Regions from separate parts of the Homo sapiens genome. Here all the other regions are linked to region 1. Evidence: fine-mapped expression QTL. A gene starts in region 1. Each other region holds a variant in brackets. All regions are shown on one strand. Distances are between the middles of the regions. Region 1 holds the start of RSRP1 (arginine and serine rich protein 1). Region 2 holds the start of LDLRAP1 (low density lipoprotein receptor adaptor protein 1). Region 3 has its middle 32 kb from the start of SYF2. Region 4 overlaps RHCE (Rh blood group CcEe antigens).

What was found.
Region 2: its variant is fine-mapped to the expression of RSRP1 in whole blood (INTERVAL, PIP 0.93).
Region 3: its variant is fine-mapped to the expression of RSRP1 in whole blood (INTERVAL, PIP 0.98).
Region 4: its variant is fine-mapped to the expression of RSRP1 in whole blood (INTERVAL, PIP above 0.99).

Annotation. Positions count from the first base shown.
Region 1 is chr1:25,243,759-25,251,613 of GRCh38, reverse strand. RSRP1 (arginine and serine rich protein 1) reads left to right here and starts at 4,160. Exons shown (of 5, transcript NM_020317.5): 1 at 4,160-4,305; 2 at 4,585-5,170; 3 at 6,313-6,464. The coding sequence starts at 4,651. RefSeq lists enhancers at 3,920-4,644, 4,645-5,369.
Region 2 is chr1:25,536,002-25,543,856 of GRCh38, reverse strand. It overlaps LDLRAP1 (low density lipoprotein receptor adaptor protein 1), which reads right to left and starts at 251. Exons shown (of 9, transcript NM_015627.3): 1 at 71-251. The coding sequence starts at 158. RefSeq lists a silencer at 1-421 and an enhancer at 522-581. The variant A/G (reference allele first, on the strand shown) is at 3,510.
Region 3 is chr1:25,196,724-25,204,578 of GRCh38, reverse strand. No RefSeq gene overlaps it. Among named protein-coding and RNA genes, the nearest start is that of SYF2, 32 kb to the left of the region's middle. RefSeq lists a silencer at 2,790-2,964 and an enhancer at 5,030-5,529. The variant C/A (reference allele first, on the strand shown) is at 3,483.
Region 4 is chr1:25,374,200-25,379,199 of GRCh38, reverse strand. RHCE (Rh blood group CcEe antigens) reads left to right here. Exons shown (of 10, transcript NM_020485.8): 8 at 3,772-3,851. Among named protein-coding and RNA genes, the nearest start is that of TMEM50A, 38 kb to the right of the region's middle. The variant G/A (reference allele first, on the strand shown) is at 2,535.

The DNA.
Region 1 (7,855 bases):
GCGGATCACCTGAGGTTGGGAGTTGGAGATCAGCCTGACCAACATGGAGAAACCCCGTCTCTACTAAAAATACAAAATAAGCCAGGCATGATGGCACAAGCCTGTAATCCCAGCTACTCAGGAGGCTGAGGCAGGAGAATTGCTTGAATCCGGGAGGCAGAGGTTGCAGTAAGCCAAGATCAAGCCATTGCACTGCAGCCTGGGCAACAGAGTGAAACTCCGTCTCAAAAAAGAAAAAAAAAAGGAAAACTATAAATTATACTGAATGTTTTATTTTCCTATTGCTGTGGTAATAAATAACCATAATGTTAGTGGCTTAAAACAACCTAAATTTAATATCTCATAGTTCTATAGGTGAGGAGTCTCACCAGATTAAAGTCAAGGTGTCAGTCACATTTTGTTTCTTTTTGGAGGCTCTAGGGGAAGATCCCCAACACTAGCTCATCCATGTGTTGGCCGAATTCAGTTCTATGATGTGGGATTGAGGTCTGTTTCCTGGCTGTCAGCTGGAAGCCACCATTAGCCCCTAGAGTTCTTTCCCTGCCCTTGCACATAAGCCCCTACATTTCTTTCTTTCTTTTTTTTTTTTAATTATTTTTTTCTTTGAGTTGGAGTCTCGCTGTGTTGCCCAGGCTGAAGTGCAGTGGTGTGATCTCAGCTCACTGCAACCTCCGCCTCCTGGATTCAAGTGATTCTCTTGCCTCAGCCTCCTGAGTAGCTGGGATTACAGGCGGACGCCACCTCGCCCGGCTAATTTTTGTGTTTTTAGTAGAGATGGGGTTTCACCAAGTTGACCAGGCTGGTCTCAAATGCCTGACCTGGTGATCCGCCTGCCTTGGCCTCCCAAAGTGCTGGGATTACAGGCGTGAGCCACCGCGCCTGGCCCGCCCCTACATTTCAGAAGCAGCAACAGGGCATGGAATTCTTCTCATGCTTTGACTCTCTCCTGAGATTAGATTGGGCCTACCCAGATACTTCAGAATAATCTCATCTCCAGATCCTTAACCTTAATTACATCTGCATAATTCCTTTTGTCACCTTAAGGTAACATATTCACAGGTTCCAGGAAATTAGGGAATGGACATGTTTGGGAGGCGATTGGTTTGCCAACCATAATGAAGGACATAAACAAAAAACCAACTTAAATGGCACATTTAAAACTTGTTGTGATACCCTACCTTGTTTAAACCTGAGTGACTCTCTCCTAGCAGACAGAGCCGGACAGACTCCATTTTAGTTTCTTTGCTTGCAGCCCTCTTTATCCCCCTAAGGGAGTAACTAGTGCAAGCTGACTCCAAGCACATCCAGGAATTCACCTGCTGATAAGATATTGAGGCAAGCTGTACCAGCAGCTCCTGGGAATGTGCTCGGTGGAAGGTACCTAAAGCCCCCGCATTTATCTCTTAGTGATAGTTTAAGCCCCTGTACCTGGAACTGTTTATTTTTTGTAACTGCTTCTATAACCAATTAACTTTTTTAACTTTTTGCCTATTCTGCTTCTGTAAAACTGCTTCAGTTAAACCCCCCTCCCCTATTTAGACCTTAGTATAAAAGAAAATCTAGCCCCTTCTTCAGGGCCGAGAGAATTTTGAGCGCTAGCTGTCTCCCGGTTGCCGGCTAATAAAGGACTCCACAATTTGTCTCCAAGTGTGGCGTTTCTCTATCTCGCTTGGTTACAACATTGTCACATTCTTAGATGGGAAGATTTGCTATTGTAAAGATGTTATTTCTGCCTACATTAGCCTACAAATTCGGTGCTAGATGTTCTAATAACTAAAGTTGAATTTTTTTCATTAGGTGAGTGGATAGATGCTCAGAGAATATATACTGTTTAGAGAAATAAAGGAAGGTGACTTTGCAGACTTTAACTCAGGTAGACCGCGTATGTTTTTGAGACAAATACACCAGCATTCTGCACGAGGGCAAAGTAATGTTTCCCACTGTTTCCAAAATCCTGTTAATATCCAGGATTTGCTGGGCACAGTGGCTCACGCCTGTAATCCCAGCACTTTGGGAGGCCGAGGCAGGCAGATCACTTGAGGTCAGGAGTTCAAGACCAGCCTGGCCAACATGGTGAAAACCCATCTCTACTAAAAATACAAAAAAAATTAGCTGGGCATGATGGTGCACGTCTGTAAACCCAGATGCTCGGGAGACTGAGGCACAAGAATTGTGTGAACCCAGTACGCAGAGGTTGCAGTGAGCCCAAGATCACACCACTGCATTCCAGCCTGGGCGCCAAAGCGAGACTGTCTTAAAAAAAAAAAATTAGGATTTTTCTGGTCACCATTTTTTAGGCACACATTGACTGATACTTTGAACTGTCTACGGAGACTTGTTCCATCCTTTCCTATTCATAACCAAGAGCTCAAAACTGTATCGTAAGTATACTTTAGTTCCCCAACACATCATTTTTATACTTGTCAAATGTGAAACTCGTGTTGTTATTATTATTATTTGTTTCCAGACGGAGTTTTGCTCCTGTTGCCCAGGTTGGGTTGCAGTGTTGCAATCTCAGCTCACTGCAACCTCCGCCTCTCAGGTTCAAGCAATTCTCCTGCCTCAGCCTCCCGAGTAGCTGGGATTACAGGCGCCCGCCACCATGTCAAGCTAATTTTTGCATTTTTAGTAGAGATGGGGTTTTGCCATGTTGGCCAGGCTGATCTCGAACTCCTGATCTTAGGTGATCTTCCCGCTTCGGCCTCCCAAAGTGCTGGAATTACAAGCGTGAGCCACCGCGACTGGCCTCGTGTTATTTTTCTGTCCACTCACACAGCTTTATGAGAACTTTCGGCAAAGGTTTCTGATGGATGGGCATTGTATCTTCACTGTCTTGAGATTTAGAGAAGAAACTGTTTAAGAACTACTTCCATCATGATGCATCCTCAGGAGATGTGGATGAACTGCGGAGATGTGGGGTGAAGATGAACAAGAGATGAGTGAGTTTGTGTCTCCCTCTAAAGAAAGTGGCTTTTGTCAAAATGTACTTGTAAAGAAGTGTATAGGCTGGGCAAAGTGGCTCACGCCTGTAATCCCAAAACTTCAGGAGGCTGAGGCGGAAGAATCGCTTGAGCCCAGGAGTTGGAGACCAGCCTGGGCAACACAGTTAGATCCCGTGGGTAAAAAAGTGCAAAAATTAGCATGGTGGTGCATGCCTGTAGTTCCAGCTCTTCGGGAGCCTGGGCTGCAGTGAGCCGTGATGGCCCCACCACACTCCAGCCTGGGCGAGTGAGACCCTGTCTCAAAAAAAAAAAAAAAAAAAAAGGCAATTAACCCACAATTTTCAAGGCAATTGTTATGCTTTATTACAAGAAGTGTTTGAAATGCATCCCATTTGTAGATCCCTAGAAGTAAAATAGTCACCTTTGTTTACACTCACACCAAACACAGTTTTTGGAAGAGATATCGCAGACTTCATTATTATCCCCAGATTAAAGGTCAGTTTTGAGTCTTTTTATTTTGTCTCGACCTTATTACCTTCCTAGCCAAAACATGGAAGTAAAACATCTTTTCTACGTTAATACTGCATTTCCAGGGGTCTTGGGGTGTTCCGGGGGAGGGTGAGGTCCCCTCTCTGTCATGGCGGGGTGTGGACGCGGTCGCCTTCTCCTGGCGCCGCGGTACCTAGGACAGGAGGAAGAGGCCAGGAAGGGTCCAGGGAGGCTCAGGCCGGGTCTGCGACTTGCCGGTGGGTGGCGGCAACGACCCTGTGGGCACCAGCCCGTCAGACGGCCCCAGCTCCGAGCCCGGCTGCGAGCCCTCTCCAGCCTGCAGCCGCTCCTCTCCCGGCCCTACTCCCCGCCCGGCACTGACGTCCAGCCCCGCCCGTGCAGTGAGGCCAGAGCCTGGTGTAGCCCCACGCGGGGCCGTTCCATCTTCGAAGTTTTCTGGTGACTGGGTCGGTCCCGCAATTATCTCAGATCAGGGGGGAAGCCAAGGGCAACGGGACACCCTGATGTATCAAACACCTCCCCCTGGAGCCCCATCGCGCATGCGCACCCTGGAGGCAAGCGCTCGAGGCACAGGGCGCGGCTTGGGGAGGGAGGAGGCAGGGCGGTGGTTGGGCAAGAGAAGAGCCGCGCCCACCACGGAACATCTCTGCGCATGCGCCGGGGGCCAGCTTCTGGTACTTTTGACGCGTCTGCTAACGTAGTCCCTCAGTGCGCATCCGGACGTAGGAGGTGGAGGTTGTGGAATTCGCCGTTCGAAAGCAGGGACTAAAAGCCCCACTTCGTCTTACGTTCCGAAAGGAAGGCGTCTGTTGAGCCTTTCTCTCAGTCGTGAGGGAGGCGTCGACGGCGTGCGGTAAGTTTTCTGCTGACGGGGTCTCTCAGGACCACCGCAGTGGTCTCTCAGGAGTGAGGGACGGGAAACGTGCCGGGCCCCGCGTTTGGGGAACGCAGCGTTTCGCTTCAAGGCCGCGGCCTCAGGGCGCCGAGCGGGGTTTCTAGGGCTCGGTTCCTGTCGCGGCGGTCGCCGCCCGCGCCGTGGCTCCGCCTCCCGGAGGTTCCCCGACTGTGGCTTCCGGGTGGCCAGGCGCCGGCTTCCGCGACTCGACTTGTTTTTTCTCTCTTGGTTTTTTAGGAAGTCCTGAGTTGAGGCTTGCGGGATCCTTTCCGGAGAAAGCGCAGGCTAAAGCCGCAGGTGAAGATGTCCAACTACGTGAACGACATGTGGCCGGGCTCGCCGCAGGAGAAGGATTCGCCCTCGACCTCGCGGTCGGGCGGGTCCAGCCGGCTGTCGTCGCGGTCTAGGAGCCGCTCTTTTTCCAGAAGCTCTCGGTCCCATTCCCGCGTCTCGAGCCGGTTTTCGTCCAGGAGTCGGAGGAGCAAGTCCAGGTCCCGTTCCCGAAGGCGCCACCAGCGGAAGTACAGGCGCTACTCGCGGTCATACTCGCGGAGCCGGTCGCGATCCCGCAGCCGCCGTTACCGAGAGAGGCGCTACGGGTTCACCAGGAGATACTACCGGTCTCCTTCGCGGTACCGGTCCCGGTCCCGTAGCAGGTCGCGCTCTCGGGGAAGGTCGTACTGCGGAAGGGCGTACGCGATCGCGCGGGGACAGCGCTACTACGGCTTTGGTCGCACAGTGTACCCGGAGGAGCACAGCAGATGGAGGGACAGATCCAGGACGAGGTCGCGGAGCAGAACCCCCTTTCGCTTAAGTGAAAAAGGTGGGTGGGTCATTTACCTTTCCATTTGTGGTAATGTATGGTGGCAGTATATGAGTAGGCTAGGGAACCAACGTTGCTGTGTAGTTTCAATATTAGTTCCTTTAGTGCCCGAAATCTTTTTGGAGGAAAGAGGGAGGACATTACCTGTATTTAAGTGGACAGCATTCTCTTTAGGGTTAAAGGTCAACTGGATGTTAAATGGCTCAGGATGTAGGGAACTTTTTTTCCTATTGGCTGACTGTTCTTAGTGGGTGGAGCCTTTTAAATGTTATGATTAAGTTAAAGGTTCTAAGTTAACGTGATTGGGAAGAACAATATCAAAACACGCCTTCTTTTAGTTGACATTATTACTGAATAAAATTGGATTGTCGAGTATCCTAAGTGACCTAGGAGGCCGGGCGCGGCGGCTCACCTCTGTAATCCCAGCACTTGGGGAGGCGGAGGCGGAGGCGGGTGGGTCACTTGAGGCCAGGCGTTCCATACCAGCCTGGCCAACATAGCTCACTATCTAGTAAAAGTACAAAAATTAGCCGGGGGTGGTGGTAGAAATACACTTTAGTAGTGTATCAGTATTGGTTCAGTGGTTGTGATAATTATATAAAGAATCTACAGCAGAAAAACCTGGTTTTCAGAAATACATCTTTGAAGAGAAAGCAAAATAATATCACTATTAGCTAGAGAAAATTAAGTACAACAAAAAGACAAAATAATAGGACGCTCAGGCCTTTAGTCAAGAAAACAAAACTAATTGTTGAGATAATTTAAGAATTTTATTCTTTTCAGCAAGAAATGAGCTGGAGAATAGAATTTTCAGTGAATAAAGTTACACAGTTGTCCCTCTGTTCACTCGGGGGATTGGTGCCAGGATGCATATGGAACCCTCGCGCACACTTGGGGTTTACAGTCTCTCAAACACTGTGGTACTTTCTATCTGCATTTAGTAAGGGGGAGAAAAAACAAGTATAAAGTGGACCAGCGCAGCTACTAGTGTTCAAGGGCAACCTTAGTTTACCTATTATAAAACAAGTGACTTAATATATTTAATACCACAAAATAACATATTTATTGTGTAATTCTGAGTTCTCTTGGGAAATAACTACCAGATTAATGAGTATTTTAAAATCTCTCTCTTTTTTTTTTAGATCGAATGGAGCTGTTAGAAATAGCAAAAACCAATGCAGCGAAAGCTCTAGGAACAACCAACATTGACTTGCCAGCTAGTCTCAGAACTGTTCCTTCAGCCAAAGAAACAAGCCGTGGAATAGGTGTATCAAGTAATGGTGCAAAGCCTGAAGTAAGTATTCTAGGTTTGTCGGAACAAAACTTTCAGAAAGCCAACTGTCAAATCTGATTAGCCACTTATATCTTAGACTATACTTTTTGGGAAGTCTAGAGATGTATATAATGTGCTAAATTCAAAGTAGCAAATCTGAAGATAGGCAATGTCAAACCCATGAAAATGGGAGATTAATGAGCTTTATTTGGCCGTGCATGGTGCCTCATGCCTGTAATGAGGCAGATGGCTTGAGTCCAGGAGTTCAAGACTAGCCTGGGCAATGTGGCAAAACCGCGTGTTTACAAAAAATACAAAAATTAGCCAGGCATGGTGGTGCATGCCTGTAGTCCCAGCTGTTTGGGAGGCTGAGGCAGGAGGATCTTTGAGCCTAGGATGCTAAGGTTGCAGTGAGCCAAGATGGCACCATTGCACTCTAGCCTGGGCAGCAGAGCGAGACCCTGTCTCAAAAAATACATTTATTTTTTTCATTTTCAGTTAACAGTGTACTCTTATAACACCGTTATTAGCTGGTACTTTGGTGATTTCTATTACTAGTTTTTCTAAGCTATTTACAGAGTGTTTGTAGCTTTCATTTGCAGCATTATGTTCCCACAAATTCTGTACTCAGCATATACAGTATAGTTTATCTGCTCTATTTCTGTCTTATAGAAATCATGAATGTGGTCTGCAGACATTGATGAAGAAAATCTGTTGGTAATTGATACATGGGCTAAAGCATCAGAGGTTTAATTTGAAGTTTATGTTCACACACTGAAAACTTAGTTTTTTTGTTGGTAGATCCATGTGCATGCTAGAATTTGGGACAGGCACTATTTGCATAAAGTATTAAAGTCAATTTTTAAACTAAGCAAAGGTACACGTTGTAACGGTGGGGCATCTGTGAAAAAGATGTCCCTTTCATAATATATGCAATATATTCCAGATGTTTTGAGAGATTACAGAAGAGGAGGCCTGCTTCACTTGCAGATAAGTTTATTATAATTCTCCAGAAATGTGCAGGATGTGCATTAGCAAATTGCACTGTACTTTTCACTCCAGCCTGGGTGACAGAGCAAGACTCCCGTCTCGGGGGCTTAAAAAAAAAAAATGCTGTATCTAAATGAATCTGTGTAATTGGGCCCAGATGTGGGTTTGCTCAGTATTAGTAGACAAGGTCTTTGTTCAGACGATTAGGTGCCTAACTGGCAAATGCCTTAGTTTCTTAAAACGTATTTTCTGATGTGGCTTTACATTTCAAAAGTGAACTTGATTCAACCTGAGAAAACTGATTAAAAAATTAGTTTAAATTTGCCAGCAGGGAAGTAAAATAATTATGGGAAGAGTGTCTTAAGCCTAATATTAAATCAGTTTTGTTAAGGGGAAAACTCAATAGTTCTGTTACTTAGGCT
Region 2 (7,855 bases), 290 kb before region 1:
GGGCGCCCGCGGAGGCCCCGCGCGCCTCTGCCCGATCCCGGCCCGGCCCGGCTGACGCGCGCACACTCACTGCGGTGCCGGCCACCGCCCCCCCAGCTCTGCTTGGCCAAGCTGGGGCTCCGGATCAGCGCCCGCCCCGCCGACTTGAGCGCGTCCATGGCCCGCTCCGGCCGCCGCCGCCGCTGCCGCAGCCAAAACTCCGTCAGGAAAAACTTTCCGCCCGGCCCTGCGGCGCGCGGGCTGCGCGCTCCTCCCCTCCCAGCGCCAGCTCCGCCGCGGCGTCCGACGGGGCGGGGCGAGAGAGGACAGGCCCCGCCCCCAGACGGGCCGCGCCCCCGACGGCCGGTCTCGCCCCGCCCGGTCCCTGTCCAGGCTCCAGGTCCAGGCACCAAGAGTTTCCGAGGCCGCCCGAAGGCGCCAGAAGATAGCAAATCGCAAGCCCTAGACGCCCCCGCTTTCCTCCTTTTCCCCAATCCCCACCCCGTAGGGGCCTGAGGGCCTGAGAGCAGCGGCCTAGGATTTCCAGTGACCATTTTACAGATGGGGAGACTGAGGGCTCCTCCAGTGGTGAAAGATCTTGTTCAGGGACAAAAGCAATGCGATGTCCAGGGCAGTGGGAGACTTAGGAAATAGTGGAGGCTGTAAGCCAGGGATATCCAAACTTTTGGCTTCCTTAGGCCACATTGGAAGAAGAAGTGTCTTGGGCCACACATGAAATACACTAACACTAACGACAGCTGATGAGCTGAAATATATATATATACACACACACTCATGTTTTTTGTTTTTCTGTATTGTTTTTTTTCCCCTGAGACAGAGTTTCACTCTGTTGCCCAGGTTGGAGTGCAGTGGTGCGATCTCGGGTCACTGCAACCTCTACCTCCCGGGTTCAAGCTATTCTCATGCCTCAGCCTCCCGAGTAGCTGGGATTACAGGCATGCACCACCATGCCTGGCTAATTTTTGTATTATTAATAGAGATGGAGTTTTACCATGTTGGCCAGGCTGGTCTCGAACTCCTGACCTCAAGTGATCTGCCCGCCTCAGCCTCCCAAAGTGCTGGGATGGCTGTGAGCCACCACACCCTGCCCAAAAAAATCTCATAATGTTTTAAGAACCTTTACCAATTTGTGTTGGGCTCCATTCAAAGCCGTCCTGGACCTCACATGGCCAGTGGGCCACAGGTTGGACAAGCTTGCAGTATAGACCCTTGTTAGGCGCAGGGTCGGTATATAAAAATTTGCCTTTAGCAAGTCCAGCCAGGCACTTTACTCATCCTCGTAGCTCCCAGGCTGCTCCCTGGCACCACCTGAGCATGCTGGGCCACCCCATGCCCCCGCAACTTCCCAGGTAGCCTCACAGATGGTATGATCTGGAACGTGCCCCTGACACTGACTTGCTGTGTGACCTCAGGCAAGTACTTCCCCTCTCTGAGTCTTGTTTATCTGTGAATGAGAGTCAATGCTATCTCTAGTGATCCTTCCAACCTGCCAGGGTCAAGAATCTGCATGACCTTGACCCTGACCCCAAGCTGCTTCCTAGGAGCATTCGGAGGGCAGTCTGAACCCCAGAATTGCTCAGGCACAGATGTTCTAACTCCAGGATTGGAAGGATTTGTTCTAACTCTCTAGGATGCCATGCCTTCCTTTCAAACTGTGCCAAAAGGAGCCAGAGGGAGGACACACACATCCAAGCCACAGCCTGGCTTCTTTTAGAAGGGGGTGCCTCAGGCAAGGCCAACTTCAACCTCTGTAATTACTCCTGGCTCAGAAGCCAGCAGTCCTCTCTGTGTCGGGAGAAAGATAGTGCTGTGCTGTCCCCAGCTGGATAGGGCGGCCTCACTGACATTCCCCTGTTTATAAACCAAGTGCTTTGTTAGCCAGTCTGTCCTTGGCTTCCCCAGCAACACTGCTTAGGTGGACCCACTTTACAGATGACAGCCCTAGGTCAGGGAGGGAAGCATTCACTGATAGTCTCCGAGAGTCAGAGACTGGGATCAGACTCAGGCCCATAGGCAATGGGGTAGAGTATAATGCCAGGGGTTAGAACCCAGCTGTCCTTCTGGTGGTTGTGAACTCACCCTTCTGAGCCTCATCTGTAAAAGGGACAACTATATCTATTTCACAGGGCTGTCCTTAAGGACTAAATAACAGGAGTTGGAATGGCTGAATCCTGTTCTTGAGAACCCACCTTTAAAGTTGCCTCCTCCAGGAAGGCTTCCCTGACTACCACCCATGGATTAAGTTTCTCTTTGTGGGCGCCCACAGTCCTGAACTTTCAGGATTGCAAGCACTACTGCTGCCTGTTTATACTCCTCTCATCTCCATTAGACTTTGTACCCTCCAAAAGCAGGAAGTTTTTCTGATTCATTTCTGAATCCCAAATGCCTAGTAAGGGGTCCAAATGGAGTTGGAACACAGTCAGTGTTCCTGTCCTTCCTCCCTCCTTTCCTCCCCTTCTCCCTTTCTCCAGCTTTTCACCAAACCAGGCTGCCTTCTGCAAAAGGGCTGTGGCAATAGGTAGATGGGTCCACAGGGCTGAGTGCCCCCAGCTCACTTATCCCAAGCCAGCTAGATTCTGGAATAGTAGAGAGAGCATTCTGAAGCAGGGAGGAAAAGTGATCACCCAGGGCAGACTGGCCAAGGGCAGCTGGTGGTGTCCGGCTGGCAGGGGGCACCATATGGGCCTGATAAGCAGGAAGGCCTGGGAACGCTGCGTGTGCAACGAGAACTGTTTACCAGCCTTTGCAGTTTCCCGGAGATGGCTTGCTGCGAGCTGTCAGCCATGTGTCCCCTGCAGAGGGGCAGCCTGCTAGTGCCCCTTCTGCCAATCCCAGAAACAGAAGCAGAAACAGAAGGTCAGAGCTGCGAGTGGCCTCCTCTGAGGTCACTGTGGCCAAACCCTCATTTCACAGATGAGGAGCCTAAGGCCCAGAGAGGGACAGGGACTTACGCAAGGTTACACAGCAAGCCAGGAACAGATGCCAGGTCTCCTGCCTCCCACCTTGGATGCTTATAACAACGAGGAGGAGGCAAAGAAGTAGGGCCGCGTGCAGTGGCTCGTGCCTGTAATCCCAGCACTTTGGGAGACTGAGGCGGATCACCTGAGGTCGGGAATTTGAGACCAGCCTGACCAACGTGGAGAAACCCCGTCTCCACTAAAAATACAAAATTAGCCGGGCGTGGTGGCGCATGCCTGTGATCCCAGCTACTCGGGAGGCTGAGGCAGGAGAATCGCTTGAACCCAGGAGGCAGAGGTTGCAGTGAGCCGAGATCACGCCACTGCACTCCAGCCTGGGCGACAAGAGCGAATCTCCGTCTCAAAAAAAGAAAAGAAAAGAAAAGAAAAAAATAAGTCCTGAGATTCAAGAGGGGCTTGAAAGGGGATTTTTCTTTTCTCTTTTGTTTGGTTTTCTGTTTATCTGCTCTAACTTTGTAAACATTTCTGCAGTGATCATGTTCCTTTAGTAATCAGAAAAAGAACAATAAACGGGGTCGGGGAGCTACCTAT[A/G]AGAATAAATGGCTTTTGTCTTTAGTCAAATGGCATCAGCTACAATCTTACTAATTTCTTCCTCAGTGGACCCACAGGACCCCAGCGAGATAGTGGATGCCAAGGAGTTGACAGGGCTGTCAGCCTCTCTCCAGCCATCATTTGGGCTTGCAGTGGGACCAAGACAAAAGCCTAAGCTGGGATGAGAGTCCCTGGTTTCCTCAGGTGGTCTGTCCTCCCTACTTCCCTGAGCCAATCCCTTCCTCTGTTTCTTCATCTGTAAAATGGGAGTTATTAGTGGAAGACACCAGAGCGCAGTAGTGAAGCACACTGATGCTGCATCCCGGGATCCAGGCTTCCCTATTTCTTTACTGCATGGCCTTAGGCAAATTATTTAAATTCCACAGGCCTCAGTTTCCTCTAAAATGTAAAATTGGTGCAATGGACTGAATGTTTCTGTCCTATCAAAATTCGTATGTCAAAATCCTAACCTTCAAGGTATCAGCAGATGGGGCCATTGGGAGGTAATCCTTTCATGAAAGCAGAGCCCTCATGAATGGGATGAGCATAAAGAAGACCCCAGAGAGATTCCTGGCCCTGTTCACTCTTACAGTGACAAGACAGCCATCTATGAACCAGGAAGCCGGCCCTCGCCAGACCGAATATGCCAACACCTTGAACTTGAACTTCCCAGCATCTGCAACTGTGAGAAATACATTTTTGTTGTTTATAAGGCAGCCGGCCTTTGGTATTTTTATTAGAGCAGCCTGAATAGACTAGAATAATGGGGATTACACCTCATGGAGTCATCATGAGGATTAAAAGTTAATGTAGGCTGGGTGCCGAGGCTCACGCCTGTAATCCCAACACTTTGGGAGGCCCAGGTGGGTGGATCACCTGAGGCCAGGAGTTTGAAACCAGCCTGGCCAACATAGTGAAACACCTTCTCTACTGAAATACAAAAATTAGCTGGGTGTGGTAGCAGGCGCCTGTAGTCCCACCTACAGGCTGGGACATTAACAAAAGTTAATGTTTGTGACATGTTTAGAATTCTGCCTGGCATATAGTAAGTGATGTATATGTTGCATATATATATATATATATATATACACTTTTTTTTTTTTGAGATGGAGTCTAGCTCCATCTTTTTTTTTTTTTTGAGTTGGAGTCTAGCTCTGTTGCCCAGGCTGGAGTGCAGTGGTGCCATCTCGGCTCACTGCAACCTCCGCCTCCCAGGTTCAAGTGATTCTCCTGCCTCAGCCTCCTGAGTAGCTAGGATTACAGGCACCCACCACCACGTCCAGCTAATTTTTGTATTTTCAGTAGAGACAGGGGTTTGACCATGTTGATCAGGCTGGTCTCGAACTCCTGACCTCGTGATCCGCCTGCCTCGGCCTTGCAAAAGTGCTGGGATTACAAGCATGAGCCACCATGCCCAGCCGCATATTTTAATAAAACTAAAATTGCTTTCCTAACTGGGTGAACAATGAAGATGACATGGCTGGAGTACCTATGAATATCATAATTCTTGGCTGGTCCCCAGGGAAGGGAGCTCTCTCTCCGGGTTGGAACCAGCATAGCCCAGTCTGAGGGGCAGGCAGGCTAACATCACACCTTCAATGGACAGGGTAGGGTTGCCCCATCCTAGCTGGGGCCCAGGTCGGAGACAGTACTCTCCTAGGGAGTCAGAGGGAGCCTGGGTTACTTACCGGTGAGTCACAAGCCCCAGGGCTCTGACCTTTTACCCCAAATGCAGGGCCTTTCCTGCCTGCTGTGCCCGCTGACCTGACCACCCCAACCAGTTGCCTCTGAACCCGTCCTCCCTCAGACCCTTCCCATGCAGCTGCTTCTTCCAGGAACATCCAGCCAGACTGCTTCAACTCTCCTGGCCTCTCTACCTTTGCCCTGAACAGCTACTTGGCCTCCTCCCTAACACCCATGATCACAGCCACCCACACACCAGTATTCTCTCCCCAACACACACACACTCCTAAACAACTGTTAGACCTTGGAGCTCCACATACCTTGGCTCTAAAACAAATCCTCCATGTATGTATATGTAACCTTAGCTATCTCTGAGCCTCAGTTTCCTCATCTGTATAGTGGGCATAATACCTACCTTAGAGGGCTTTGTAAGCCTTCTGTGGGATAATATATGGAAAATGCTTAGTCTAGTGCCAGGCGTGTGGCGAGCGCTCAGTAAATGGTAACAGGGTTGGGCACGGTGGCTCATGCCTGTAATCCCAGCACTTTGGGAGGCTGAGGTGGGTGGATCATCGCTTGAGCTCAGGAGTTCAAGACCAATCTGGGCAACAAAGCAAAACCTTGTCTCTATAAAACAAAATTTAAAAAATTAGCCGGGTATGGTGGCACACATCTGTGGTCCCAGCTTCTCAGGAGGCTGAGGTGGGAGGATCGCTTGAGCCCAGGAGGCAGAGGTTGCAGTGAGCTGAGACTGCGCCACTGAACTCCAGCCTGGGCGACAGAGACACTGTCTCAAAGAAATAAAAATGAAGATAAACTTTTTTTTTAAAGGGTAACTCTGGTTATCATTATCATGATTATGGTGAGCCTGTTTGCCTCTTCCAGCAGCTGGGCGTGCCTCAAGCATGGGGGCTGGAAATCAGCATTCATTCCAGGGGCTCCTAGAGCTGCTGACCAGTGCCTGGCACAAAGGAGATGCCCCATACACATCCAATGGCTTAATTTCTGTCTCTGGTTCTTATAGTGTCTGGCAAGTGGGTGAGGAAGGATGAGAAACAGCAGCCCCTAATGGGGCTGGGGAGGTGCTGCTGAGGGGAGCTCCTCGGTACCTACCCCTCCAAATAGCCCTCCGTGGTGGGACCAGCAGCTGTCTCCTCCCCCAGCCTAGCATCCACAGGGAGATCTCTAGGCTGTGGAGCCACTGAGCTAATTAAGAATGACAAAGCACCGTGTAATTGCCAGCAATTGATGAGTCCCCTGCCTCCTGCCCCCGCTTCCCTCGTCCTCCTTGGCACTGTCTGGCCTGGAGGTCACTGCATAGACATGGAGGCAGGCAGAGTGGTGTGACTGAGGACAGGCTGGTGTCAGGAGACCTGGGGGCTGGCCACCTCTGCCGCCCTCTTGCAGTGGCACTTTGGGCAAGGAAGTTCCCTTCTTAAGTTGGCTCTATTTCCCTTTTTCTGTCTACAGGGATCTTGACCTTGTGCTGAAAGGAGGTAGGAGGAGGGACAAAGTGAAGGGGCCAGGCCAAAGAGGACTCTGCTAAGGGGTCTGCTGCACCTTCCAGACTGGTTGAGTACAAGGCAGACAGCCTCAGGTTTGAGTCCCAAGCCCCACTCAGCAGCTGTGTGATCGTGGGCAGCCCACCTACCTACCGTCTCCATGCAGCAGGTTCCTCAGCTCTAAAATGGGACTCGCCTGAGAGCACTTAGCTCTTACTAGGACAACCTGCATGTGTTCTGAATCTGGGCCTATAAAGAGACCTCTGGACAAGCCCAATGCTATCAAAGAGAGTGTAGATATTAAGGGTTGAGAACTTTTAGAGCAATTTGATAGAGTAATTTTATGTCTGTTGAATCTCATTTTTAAAATTAGGCTTGTGTTTTTCGTCATTTTATTGTATTTTTCTAGTAATTCGTTTTCCTTGTATTTTACAAAAGCATTGGTCTGTGACAGAAGAGAAATTCTTTTAAAAATGGTCCTGCTCCACTGATGCTTCGAGAAGCATTACTTAGTGGACTTCATAAAACAGACATTGGTGGCAATCTTGCCATAATATCTATATAGTTCCAGGGTTTGATTTCCAGGAACCTTCAACTTCTCCAAAGCCTGTGAGATAAAGACCAAACCCCTTAGCCTGGCTTTCGAGGCCCTTCTCACTGAAGTCCCCACCCACCTTCCCATCCCTCGTCCTCCCCAGCCACATAGCCTTGTGATACTACCCTGTAACCCCTTCCCCTAAACTTCCTGTGTCCTCCTACTTCTCCATGCCTTTGCTGTTCCTTCTACCTGGAATGCCTTTCTCCAGTTTGCCCTCCAACTGGCAAACTCCTATTCATCCTTCAAAGCCCAGACTAAATGTCACCAATCCTGGGAAGCCTTTCCCAATGCCACTCCAGCACTCACCCCAGGTGGGGTTGCTCCCTTCTCCATACTTCACATGGAGCATGTGTGGGGACAGGACATCGCTATGGTTAAGGCTACAGGCTCAGCAGTCAGAACAATGTGGGCTTCAGACCTGACTTTGCCAGCTGCACAATCCTGGGCAGGTGACTTAATACTGCCGAGCCTCATTTTCCCGTCTGTGCAGTGGAGTCTAGAGGTGATACGTGAAAAGTTTCCAGCACCATGGCACACGGTAGAGACCTCAGATACGACAGCTG
Region 3 (7,855 bases), 47 kb after region 1:
CTGTCTCAGCCAGGTTCACGCCACCACACCCAGATAATTTTTGTATTTTTAGTAGAGACGGGGTTTCACCATGTTGGTCAGGATGGTTTCGATCTTTTGACCTCGTGATCTGCCTGCCTCGGCCTCCCAAAGTGCTGGGATTACAGGCGTGAGCCACCAAGCCCGGCCTGTAAATAACATTTTATTGGAATACAGCCTCACTTATTTGCATATTGTCTGTGGCTACTTTCAGCTTACAGTGGCAGAGTTGACAGATGGCCTAAAATATTTACTATCTGGCTCTTTACAGAAAAAGGGTTAGATAGATGCAGAGGTTATTTAGCAAGGCCTTGAGGAATTGGGTCATTAGCTCCAGGAGAGTTGAGGGACCCAAGGTGGGAGACCTTGAGTACTGAAGTGGCCAAGAATGTTTTTGGGGGGTGGGGAGAGAGTAGGAGCAGCATGGAGGAGATAAGAGGCTTGGGTGAGGCGTGGAGAGGGGACATCGAGAGGCTTTCAATTGCTATGCTAATGCCCTCAAATACAAATACCAACCAGAAAACCTACCAATTAGGATCACCTTGACTCATCTGTAAATAACAACTATTTATCCATCTGTAATCAATGAAGATGATTCCTGTTGGGATTTTAATTTACATCTGTTTTAAATTTTCATGCACTTTCTTTCAAAGGACTTGTGAATGTGCATATTAAAGTGCAGAGAAAAAGAAGACATTTGCCAATAAAACAGAATGGACCACATTACACAAAACTCTTTGCATTTATTTCCATCTTTAGTACCAGCTACTGCACTGGAATTTCTTTCTTTTTTTTTTCTTTTTCTTTCTTTCCTTTCTTTTTTTTTTTTTTAAGACAGAGTCTCACTCTGTTGCCCAGGCTGGAGTGCAGTGATGTGATCTCGGCTCACTGCAACCTCTGCCTCCTGGCTTCAAGTGATTCTCCTGCCTCAGTCTCCTCAGTAGCTAGGACTACAGGCATGCATCACCATTTCTGTATTTTTAGTAGAGACAGGGTTTTGCCTTGTTAGTAAGGCTGGTCTCGAACTTCTGACATCAGATGATCTGCGTGCCTTAGCCTCCCAAAGTGCTGGGATTACAGGTGTGAGCTACTGCGCCCGGTCTGGAATTTCTTAAGCAATATTTTCCAGGTGTTTTGAGCCTATTTTGTGCTGGGTAATTTTCATATATTGCATTTATTGAATTTCCACAATACTCTGACAAATACACATCAATTCTTCTATCTTTCAGAAGAAGGCAACAGCTCAGAGAAGTCACGTAATTCTCAGCTGGGCGCGGTGGCTCACACCTGTAATCCCAGCACTTTGGGAGGCTGAGGCAGGTGGATTGCCTGAGGTCGGGAGTTCAAGACCAGCTTGACCAACATGGAGGAAACCCATCTCTATTAAGAATACAAAATTAGCTGGGTGTGGTGGCTCATGTCTGTAATCCCAGCTACTTGGGAGGCTGAGGCAGGAGAATCACTTGAACCTGGGAGGCGGAGGTTGCAGTGAGCCGAGATCATGCCATTACACTCCAGCCTGGGCAGTAAGAGCAAAATTCTGTCAAAAAAAAAAAAAAAGTCAGGTAACTCTCTAAGGCAGGCCAGCTGGACCCTGAATTTGAACCCCATGAACCAATCTTGGCATTAGTCAGAGCTGAGTCCACGGCTCCGAGCTTCCTCCGTCTTGAATGTCTTCCTAATTGTGCTGTGCTTGGTGTTCTTTTTATAGGCTGGTAGCTAGGCCTTGCAGTCTTACTTACATTATTATATTATTATCCTTCCTAGCAGAACCCTAATTAATTAATCATATAGAAATGGTTCCTTATTTAGTCCGTTAAGTTAAATTGAGGCCTTTAGTGAGAGGAGCCAGAAGCCTTGGCCCAAGTGTAGCAGGTCCCAGTCCGCGGGACTAAACATCTGAGAGACACGGGACAGAGTGACCAAGGGCGGGAGGCTGCTCTTCAGAACAGATGTACCTGCAGCTTGCCATCGTCGGGCCATGGGAAGGAAACGAGGCAAAAAACAAATGCATGGTCAGGACAATTTGTTAGATCCAGGGCTAGTTTTTAACTCTCAGTGTTGGCCTGTAAACACATTACCCTGCCTAGGAGTGGGCTCATGATCCCACCCAGAGACTGACTTTGACTGCTGGAAAAAGGTCCCTTTTGTAAGCAGAGTCACACTAGGGCATCTGGAAATAAATGTGCTGGGGCATGTTGGTGTTTTATTCCCCAGCGTTCTATGTTTGTTGTCTTGGGAAGTGTTGACAGGTGCACAAGGCAGAAGTAATAACAAAAGTGTTTGTGGGTGCTCTTGAGAAAAGGTGTGCTAGGCTGTTTTTTTTTTTTTTTTTTTTGAGACAGACTCTTGATCTGTCGCTCGGGCTGGAGTGTCGTGGTGCGATCTTAGCTCACTGCAACCTCTGCCTCCCAGGTTCAAGTGATTCTCCTGCCTCAGCCTCCTGAGTAACTGAGATTACAGGTGCCCGCCACCATGCCCAGCTAATTTTTTTTTTTTGTATTTTTAGTAGAGACGGGGTTTTGCCATGTTACCCAAGCTGGTCTCGAACTCCTGTGGCTCAGGCAATCTGTCTGCCTTGGCCCTCCAAAGTGCCAGGATTACAGGTGTGATCCACCGCATCCGGCCAGCTGTTTTTGCATTGCTGTAAATGAATACCTGAGGCTGGGTCATTTATAAAAAGAGGTTTAATTGGCTCACGGTTCTGCAGGCTGTATGAGAAGCATGGTGCCAACATCTGCTCGGCTTCTGGTGAGGACCTCAGGAAGCTTACAATCATGGTGGAAGGTAAAGGGGGAGCAGGCACGAGAGTGGGAGCAAAAGAGTGGGGTTGGGGGGCGGTTCCAGACTTTTAAAGAACCGGAACTCATGTGAACTCACGGAGCAAGAACTCACTTATCACCAAGGGGATGTCGTTAACCCATTCATGAAGGATCTGCCCTGGTGGTCCAGTCATCTCCCACCAGGCCCCACCCCCGACATTAGGAATCATATTTCAGTGTGAGATTTGGGGGGAACAAACAAACATCCAAACCATATAGAAAGACATCCCCTGGTTCTCAACAGCCCCCACTCTCATTTTTTGCAGGAGGTGCGGAAGGTGAAATGGGTAGGTGGCTTATGAGCATAAGCTGTTGGTAATTAGATCCTTCCTTGGCCTCAAGTCCTCCCTATTTCTCAATTGGCCACGCTGTTGGAGAAAAAGGTGTGGGACAGGCCTTTAGGATCACATTACTGAGGGAGAGGAGGCAGTTTCAGAGGACACATTCCCGGGGATTTGTTTACCTGTTGACCGGATCTTGTGGAGGGCTCCAGAGAGCCTGTTCCCGACAGGCGACCTCCAGCGCTGTGGGTGAAGGGTGAACATGGAAGCTGATGGCCATGACTGTCAGAGGAGCTGCAGTGGGGTCTACTGGATGGGCAGGCCCGTGTGGGATGGAATGAGGCTCAGGGGAGTGGCAAGT[C/A]CAGAAACAACTGTAACAGAGGAGGGACTAAATATGATGAGGTGGGAGGATCAAGAAATGCAGAAAAGATGCAGAGGGGTCAGATATGGTGGCTCATACCTGTAATCCTCGTGCTTTGGGAGGATAAGGCAGGAGGATGGCTTGAGGCTGGGATTTTGAGACCAGCCTGGGCAACATAGTGAGACCTCATCTCTATAAAAAGTAAAAAAAATTAGCCAGGTGTGGTGGCGCCTGCCTGTAGTTCTAGCTACTTGGGAGGCTGAGGTGGGAGGAACACTTGAGCCTGGGAGGTTGAGGCTGCAGTGAGCCATGATCACGTCACTGCACTCCAGCCTTGGCCTGGATGATAGAGAGAGACCCTGTCTCAAAAAGCAAACAGACAAACAAACACACACCAAGCAGGAGCCTAAAGAGCCACTCCACTCACGTAGAGAAAACTTCACACACAGGAGCTGATTTTCGGAGCGTGAGAGCCCTATGGCTGGGCACTGTGGTGGTCCTTGCCCTCCAGACAAGGGAGCAAAGGCTCAGAGGTTTACGCTACCGGTTCCAGACCACACTGCTGTGAGTGGCAAGGTGGGGCTTCGAATCCAGCCCTATCGGCTGCCAAAGCCGCATTGCTCATCCACCAAGCCACACTTCCTCTCAGCCCTGCCTGTTCATTAAGGCTCTTCTCGGAAGCTCCAGGTGCCCGCATACCCTCTCCCAGTGCCCCTGCCATCTGTCCTGACTCCCTGCCTGTCAGAGCTTGGATACCACGTGGTACTTGGCCTTCTCCCGTAGATGCTTCTCCCCTACAGACCTGGCCCAGATAGGCAGGCCTTTGCCAGCCTGGCCATGCCTGGCTTGGGCGAATGTCGACTCGTGTCGTCCTGTGAGCACGCCATCCCAGGGCACTATGGTGGATGCCTCTGTAGCACAAAGAGACTGGGCCAGGGTCCTTGAGGGCTCGGGCTGGAGCGGGGGCCCTCACATTCCTGCTGCCTGCCAGCACTGTCTCCAAATGCCTGTCAGGTTGTAAAGGCGAAGAGTTGTGCATAACAGCTGCAGAAATCAAGCTGGCTCAGAAGAGCTCAGCCTGCAGAGAGAAGAAAATGATTTCAGCAAGAAACAAGCTGCAAATAACTCATAATGACCAGAGTGGGGCCCTGCCGGCTTTGCTCTGGGTTTGGTGAAATGTCTTAAGATATTTTTCCAAAGCCCTGGATTTGGCCAAATTGGAAACGTCCTTCGGCAAATGCTTTCTTTGCCTTAATTCTTAAAGTCAAGACTATTTGGAAGGCGATCTCCTTTGCTGTTTCAGATTCGTTTACTCTTGACACATCACAAGGGGCCTGCTGGGCGAGAGCTGTTTATAGGAGCAGATTTTAGGAATCAGAGGCTAAAGCAAGAAAGGTTTGGTCCATCCCATTAAGCACACCTCCCCCCATCCTCCACGTGGGGAGAAAGCCCTGGAAACAAGGGACTGAGGCTTGGGATCCCTGGTGGAGGTCAGGAAGTACCTCCTCCGTCACCCCTGGGCACCTTAGAGTTGTCTCCCAAAGCCTCCTCACTTTTCTCTTCTCTTGGATTCTAGAAATGCTGCCGAACTCAAAGCCACAGACCCCAGAGACCTACAAGGCAGTGTAGGTCTCACGAGCCTTGGTCTCACGTTGCTCAGGGGGGTCTTCCCTTCCTCTCGGCTCCTCCCACCTTCTCCTTCTGCACGACACCTTGGGAGGGCCTTGTGAGTGGCTTCTGTGGCACTGACCCAGGACCCCAAGCTCTGTAATTAGGCCCAGAGCCTCAGGTCTTTCAGCTCTACCCTGGACGTGGAAATAGAATCCTGAAGGCTTTTTGCTTCTGGTTTCTAGGCTGTCTCCCCGGACACTGCCTCGCCCTCTGCGGGGCTCTGAGTTCCTGGTGGAGGCGCCCACAGTGTGTGGCTGGCTACACTGCTCACTGCAATGGCTATAGGAGGTGAACACGGGATCAACCCTGCCGGGTTTGCTCCTTCGCAGTGACGCACGGCTCCGAGAACACACTCGGCCTCTGTATTTTGGCTTCACGTTGGAAAAATCTGCAACAATGCCTTCTGAGTCAATTCCACTGGGGCTCTGGTGACAAACCACTCTGGTTGTGTCTGGTGGCTTACAGGGTCCCCAGAGCCCTTTGATGGAATTACAGCTGCTCCTCTGTGCCGTCGCTGTCTCTCTGCCTCTGTCTCGCTCAACCTCTGTTTCTCTTTCTCTCTGTCAACACGGAAGGAGCTGGAACCAAACTGGAATGTGTGCTTGGGCAGCCTCAGTCCCGAGTGCCCACGAGCTGGTGTGTCTTGGCAACAGTGGCCCAGCAGCGCCCTGGCAGAGCCAAGCAGATGAATGGGTAATTAAACCGAGTGTTTCCCTACTGATACTTATTTCCCTGGTTCCAAATTTATTACTTAATTAAAGGGTATTCACAGCCTGCCAAGAGATGCTAGATCTTTCTTTCCTGTGCCAACAAATAGTTCCTCTTATACCCCTCTTTTGCCCTCAATTCTGCCTCTCTCTTTTTGTCTATCTGTGTCTCTGTCTGTTTCTCTCTTCCTCTCTCACAGACCCACATCCACACCCACGCCCACAGAGTCTTAGATCAAATAAGAGTACTAGTTGTTAGTAATTTCCTTGGTTAAGACTCTTGATAGTTTTTGCCCCAGGACAAGGCAAGAGAGTTAGTCCCGGCTCTTTTCTCCAATGGCTATTTAGTCCTGTGGGCTTGAGGTTTGGGTCCAGGGAGAGAGGAGTCAAGGGAGTGGTGGCTGAGGCCATGCTAAGGCTGGCTGGACCGGTGGGGACGTTAGTGCCCCTGACTTCCCCATCGTTGTTTCCAGGTGGGCACTGCCCCCAGGCAGCTTTCTCTCCTCTGCCCGCTCAGCTGCTGCTCCCCGCAGACTTCCTCATTCCTTCTGTTTTGCCCCATCTGAGATGAGCCTGTGTGCTTTGGAACACAGCAGACTATTGTTCCAAAGACAATAAAAAAAGATTGGGAAATGTAGTGGCTGTCACTCCCCAGTGCCTTCAAGTTAGAATTCGACGTGTGTGTTCAGAGGGCCGTGGTGAGATTGCGCCTGCCAAGGTAGAACAAACAAAAAGGAGTAAGAGAGAAAAAAGACAAAAGCTGGGATTAAACACCCCAAAAAGAAGATAAAATAGGCACCTCCTCCCTTAACCTCCCGTGACAGATTTAAAGCTTCATTAGTGGCCCACAAGGGGTTCTCAAGCAGCTACTGCCTCATCATCATGGCCATTAACCAGCGTGCAAATGACCCGCCGAGGGCCCTCGACCTGTCATGGCGCTGTCACCAGCGTGGTTTATGGCTTCTGAGCACCAGGTCCCAGATGGGCAACATGATCCTTTGCTTCCCTCATCAGAGCAAATCTGGACTTTAGAGCTCGTAAATTCAGCGGGGTGTCCCAGGGGCTGGCTGACATCTTGGAGGTGCCGGGTGAGGATTTATGGGCCCAGCCATAGTTTTGGGGGAGCCACAGGTTACCAGCGCAGGCATTAAAAGATACGGAGTTGCCCAACACAGCAAATGATGGCCACACGGGTGGCTCAAAGACAGCAAGGCTTAGTCAGCATGAGAGAGGGCGTGTGGTCCCTTAATGGGACTGGTGGCCGCTGCTGTTTACCCAGCCGTGGGGCTAGGAGCGCTCTATGCACTGTTTTCCTGCCCTCAACACTCAGGCAGGGGGCTGAGCCGGGATCCTGACTCCCAGGCTGGCCAGTGGGGTGGAGCGAGTCCTCACTGCCCCACAGCTCTTCCCAGCTATTCCATTCCCAGGCTGCCTCCACCTCCCACCCCTCCAACCCACCCTGGCCCGGGGTGGCTTTGCACACTTAGAACAACCTCTGGCTTGGTTGTATTAGCAGAGACATGGATCCTTAGTGTTCCTAAATGGCAGGTCTCAGGGCCGGGGCAGGGACACTGCCTCTCCACCCAGATTCCACCTGCTCCATGCCCTGGCTCGTCCCCACCACCAGCCCTCCAAATCCCCGTCCCTGCTGGTATTCATTCATCCTCTGGAGCCAGGCTGCCCATTCAGCTTCCTGCTCTGTCACTCACTGCTGTGTGCTCTTGGACACATCACTTAACCACGCTGGGCCTCATTCTCTCATCTGTAAGAGGCAGGTTTTTACAGAAGTGCCTACGTGGTTGTAGGGTTGTTGTAGGATTGCATGCGATAACCCATGTAAGTGCCTGGCCCGTAGCAAATGGTTGATAAATGTGAACTTTTTATTTATGTTATTATCATCATTGTGCCAGCTCGTCAGACACTACCTGCCAGTCCTTTCGGTGAGACGGCCTGCCTGGTGTCACACTTAATGTGTGTGTCTAGCTCTTTTTTTTT
Region 4 (5,000 bases), 130 kb before region 1:
TGCCCTCTTGCCATGTGATACCCTCTGCCATGTTATGGCACAGCAAGAAGGTCCTCAACAGATGCCAGCAGCATGCTCTTAGACTTCCCAGCCTCCAGAACCATGAGCTATATATAATTATTTTATAAATTACCCATTCTGTGGTATTCTGTTATAGCAACAGAAAGTGAACTGAGATAATATACATGGAATCATACAGTAAGTCTGTGCTTTTGTATGCTTCTTTTACTCAACATTGTAGTTGTGAGATTCATCCAGGTTGTTAAGCATTGCTGTACTTTTTTTCCACTGGGATATAGTGTTCTGTCATGCTTGGGTCTTAATTTATAAAGGTGACTGAGTGGCATTTTCTTCCAGTATTATTGGAAGGAAAGTTTTGTTGTTCACAGTTCCCCTGTAAAAAAGAGGCAGAACACGTCTTGCAGGGCCACACAAAACTGTGTCATCCAGGGACCAGGCAGCAGAAAGAGAGGGGGAACTGGGCCTATGCCTTTATGAAAAAGAGTGGTGGGAGAGTAACTGGGTGAGGGCATCCACTAATGGGCAGGAAGTGAAAACACATATGTTGGAATTTGTAGCTGAGGGGTTTATAATATGAGTTTCCCATGCCTGAGAAAGCTGACTTGCAAGAAAACGAGATAAACAACTTTGGCCATTAGTGTGGCCCTGTCATAAATGAATGCCGGATAGACAAATCGAGAATCTAAGAAAAGATAGTTGGAACAAGTGTTCCATTGTGTGAATGCAGCAGAATTTATTTATCCATTATTGAGGAGGATTTGGGTAGTTTCCAGTTTGGAGCTATTATGAATATTCTAGTATTGCTCCTCTGAACATTCTAGCACTTTTGTTTTTGGAGCACACGAATGCACTTCTGTTGATTATATGCCTAGAAGTGAAATTGTTGAGTTATACAGTATTCACACAGTCAGCCTTAGTGGCTACTGCTAAACAGTTTTCTCTAGTAGTTTGCGCCAATCTAATCACCAGTAGTGTATAGAAGCTCCTTTTACTCCACATTTTGTTAACACTTGGTGTTTTCCTTCTTTTTGATTAGTCATTTAGCAGTGAAACCTATTTTTTACATTTTGATATCTCCAATAACTAACTAAATGGAGCACTTTTAATATGCTTTTTGGACAGTTGAATATCTTTTCTTGTGAAATGTCTATTCAAGTTAGTTTGCCCATTTTCTATTGTGGTGTTCTGTCTTTTTCTTATTGATTTTAGGAATTCCTTACATATCCTGGATATGAATCCCACTATGTGGCTTACCTTTTTCCTTCTTTCTTTTTGAAACAGAGTCTCCTTCTGTCACCCAGGCTGGAATGCAGTGGCGCTATCTCAGCTCACTACAACCTCTGCCTCCCAGGTTCAAGCAATTCTCATACTTCAGCCTCCTGAGTAGCTTAGATTACAGGTGCATGCCACCATGCCCACCGAATTTTTGTATAGACAAAATAATTTTTGGTAGAGACAGGGTTTTGCCATGTTGGCCAGGCTGATCTTGAATCCTAGCCTCAACTTTGGCCCACCTTGGCCTCCCAAAGTGCCAGGATTACAGGTGTGAGCCACCATGCCCAGCCCACCTTTTACTTTCTTAATGGTGTCTTTTGAACAAGGAGGTTCTTAATTTTAATATAGCCCAATTTATCATTGTTCCCTTTATGCTTAGTTCTTTTATGTCCTGTTTAAGAATTTTTGCAGCCAGCTCGGTGGCTCACACCTGTAATCCCAGCACTTTGGGAGGCTGAGGCTGGCAGATCACAAGGTCAAGAGATCGAGATCATCCTGGCCAACATGGTGAAACCCTGTCCTTACTAAAAATACAAAAAATTAGCTGGGCGTTGTGGCTCTTGCCTGTAGTCTCAGCTACTCGGGAGGCTGAGATCACGCCACTGCACTCCAGCCTGGTGACACAGCAAGACTCCATCTAAAAAAAAAAGAAATTTGCAAGGTCATGCATATGTCCCCCTGAATTTTTTTCTAAAAATCACTTAATTTTAGATCAATGAATTGAGTAATTGACTCCATTTTTCAGTCATTCAACAAACATTTCCCTGAGGTTTTGATAACCTGAACTGTGTTTGGAGCTGGGGAGGAAGCAAACTATTGAATATATACAAAGATGGCAAAGATGAGGGCCTGGAGCTTGCCACACGGAAGGGGGGATGGCTGCCTGAATGGTTGGGCAGGTAGTTGTTGACATCTGCACTCCCTACAAGAGCAGCAGGGTGGCAACTCTTTTTATCTTTTTAATTTATTTTTCTTTTCTCTTTTTTTTTTGAGATGGAGTCTTGCTCTGTTGCCCAGGCTGGAGTGCAGTGGCGTGATCTCAGCTCACTGCAAACTCCACCTCCTGGGTTCACACCGTTCTCCTGCCTCAGCCTCCTGAGTAGCTGGGACTGCAGGCACCTGCCACCACTCCCGGCTAATGTTTTGTATTTTTAGTAGAGAAGGGGTTTCACTGTGTTAGCCAGGATGGTCTCCATCTCCTGACCTCATGATCCACCCGCCTCGGCCTCCCAAAGTGC[G/A]GGGATTACAGGTGTGAGCCACCACACCCGGCCTTAATTTATTTTTCTAGTCTGCAGGTAATTCTTTTTAATTCTCTCCACTCTCCTATGATCTTATGAGGTAGGGACTGTGATTATTTCTCCCACTTTATAATGAACAATCAGTAAAGACAGGGAAGATAACCAAATGACATACAAGGTGGGGTCCACCCCATGAGGCTGCAGGCTTGGAGCTTTCCTTTGTCTTAAAAATGAGAACATGAGCTGCCCACCTGTTGAGACAAGAAATAGGAAAGGCTTAAAAAACTGGCTTGTTGTGTACAACTATCCGTGGGGCTGCAGTGAACGGGCTGGCAGTGCCCAGGTGCATGCTGAACCCTGGGACAATCACATTCAGCATCCAGGGGCCCCCGTAATAGCTTAATGTTTGAATTGAACCCCTGGGGTTGCCTTGAAGGAGAGAGATCCTGGAAGTATGTTCAAGGGGTAGGGATGGGCAGGGGAGATGGGTCTGAAAGCCAAGCTCTACCCCACCCACCTTGCCCCAAGAGAAATAGAACCTTCATCTTTAATTGCCTAACGAGAAAACTGGGGCTGGCCAGATGTGGTGGCTCATGTCTGTAATCCCAGCAATTTGGGAGGCCAAGGCGGGCAGATCACTTGAGGTCAGGAGTTCGAGTTCAGCCTGGTCAACATGGTGAAACCCCGTCTCTATTAATAATACAAAAATTATCCAGGTATGGTGGCGCATGCCTGTAGTCCCAGCTACTTGAGGCACAAGAATCGCTTGAACCTGGGGGACAGAGGTTGCAGTGAGCCGACCACTGCACTCCAGTCTGGACGACAGAGTGAGACTCCATCTCACAAACAAAAACAGAAAAAAAAAAAAAAAAAAGAGAGAGAGAGAAAACTGGAGGCTCTGAGAGGTTAAAGGACTTGCCCAGGGTCTTGCAGCTAGTAAGTGACAGAGCTGGGACTTGAGCTTGGGTTTTCTGACTCCTGGTCTGGTTCATTATCCATGAGGTGCTGGGAACTAAAATAAGCCACAATCTTGGAATCTCCGTCGCCTCCCTCCCTCCCACATGTCTGCGTGGCTTTTTGGGAAAATGCCAGGGGAATGTACCAGCCAGGGAGAGGACCCTTGTTTTCCTCATGGCCCTTCCTGGCAATGGCACTACTGACACCGACAGTCCTTTTTGTCCCTGATGACCTCTGCTGCCTGATGCCCAAGTGACCACCTCTGCTTTGTCATTTCTAGGATTGGCTTCCAGGTCCTCCTCAGCATTGGGGAACTCAGCTTGGCCATCGTGATAGCTCTCACGTCTGGTCTCCTGACAGGTCAGTGTGAGGCCACCTTTCTTCCACCATTGCCAGGACACAGCACCCACGTCCAGAGCGCACCCTGCCGTGTGGCTGGATGTCTATGTGCCCCATCTCCTTCCCTGAGGATCACATAATTTCAGAATTGGAAAGGTTCTTAGAGGTCACCTGCTGCTAATGTGGACTGTGAGGCCAGGGCAGGGAAGGGACATCCCTGAGGTTATAAGTAGGGTGAGTGGCAACGTTGCAGACTTTTGAACCCAGGGCTGGTGATCACACTCAGTTTTGCACAGAAGCCCGAGAAAATCCTTACACCCAAAAGCCTACCTTTTATTTCTGAGGACACCCATAATACTATTTTATTCAACAGATATTTATTCAATATCCACTATGAGCCAGGCACTGGGGACACAGCAGTGAGCAAAACAAATTCCCTGACCCCATGGAATTGACCTTCTAGTGGGGGAAGGTATTAGCAATAAATAGACAAATAAGTGTCTACTACGCCAGATGGGAAGAAGTGGCTGTGAAGACAGAGCAAACTAGAGAAACATAGAGTCAATGTGGGATGGGGTGTTCTTTTAGGGGGGTGGTCAGGGAAAGCTTATCTGAGTAGTTAGCTTTTAAGCAGAGACCCCAATGAAGAGGAGGGAGATATGCGATGCATTTAGTTAGGGGAAGAACATTCCATGAAAATAGGATAGCAAGTGCAAAGGCCCTGAGACAGCAGCATGCTTTGTGTGTTGAGGGAACAGTAAGGAGACCAGTGTGGTTGGTGTGAATGGAGTGAGAAGGAGCAGCAGGGGTTGAGGGCAGAATGGTAGTGAGGAGCAGGCCCTTATAAAAGATGGGAAGCCACTGGAGATCTTTCAACAAAGGGGAAAAGTATGTTTCTGTTCTTGCAATACAATAGAAAAGCAAAAAATCTAGGGGAGTTGCTAATTAGCCAGTTTTACTTATATGCCAGGTGAAAATATGTGGCTAGGTGCAGTGGCTCATACCTGTAATTGCAGCAGTTTGGGAGACCGAAGTGGGCAGATCATCTGAGGTCAGGATTCAAGACCAGCCTGGCCAACATGGTGAAACCCTGTCTCTACTAAAAATTAAAAAATTAGCCAGGCGTGGTGGTGGGCACCTGTAATCCCAGCTACTTGGGAGGCTGAGGCA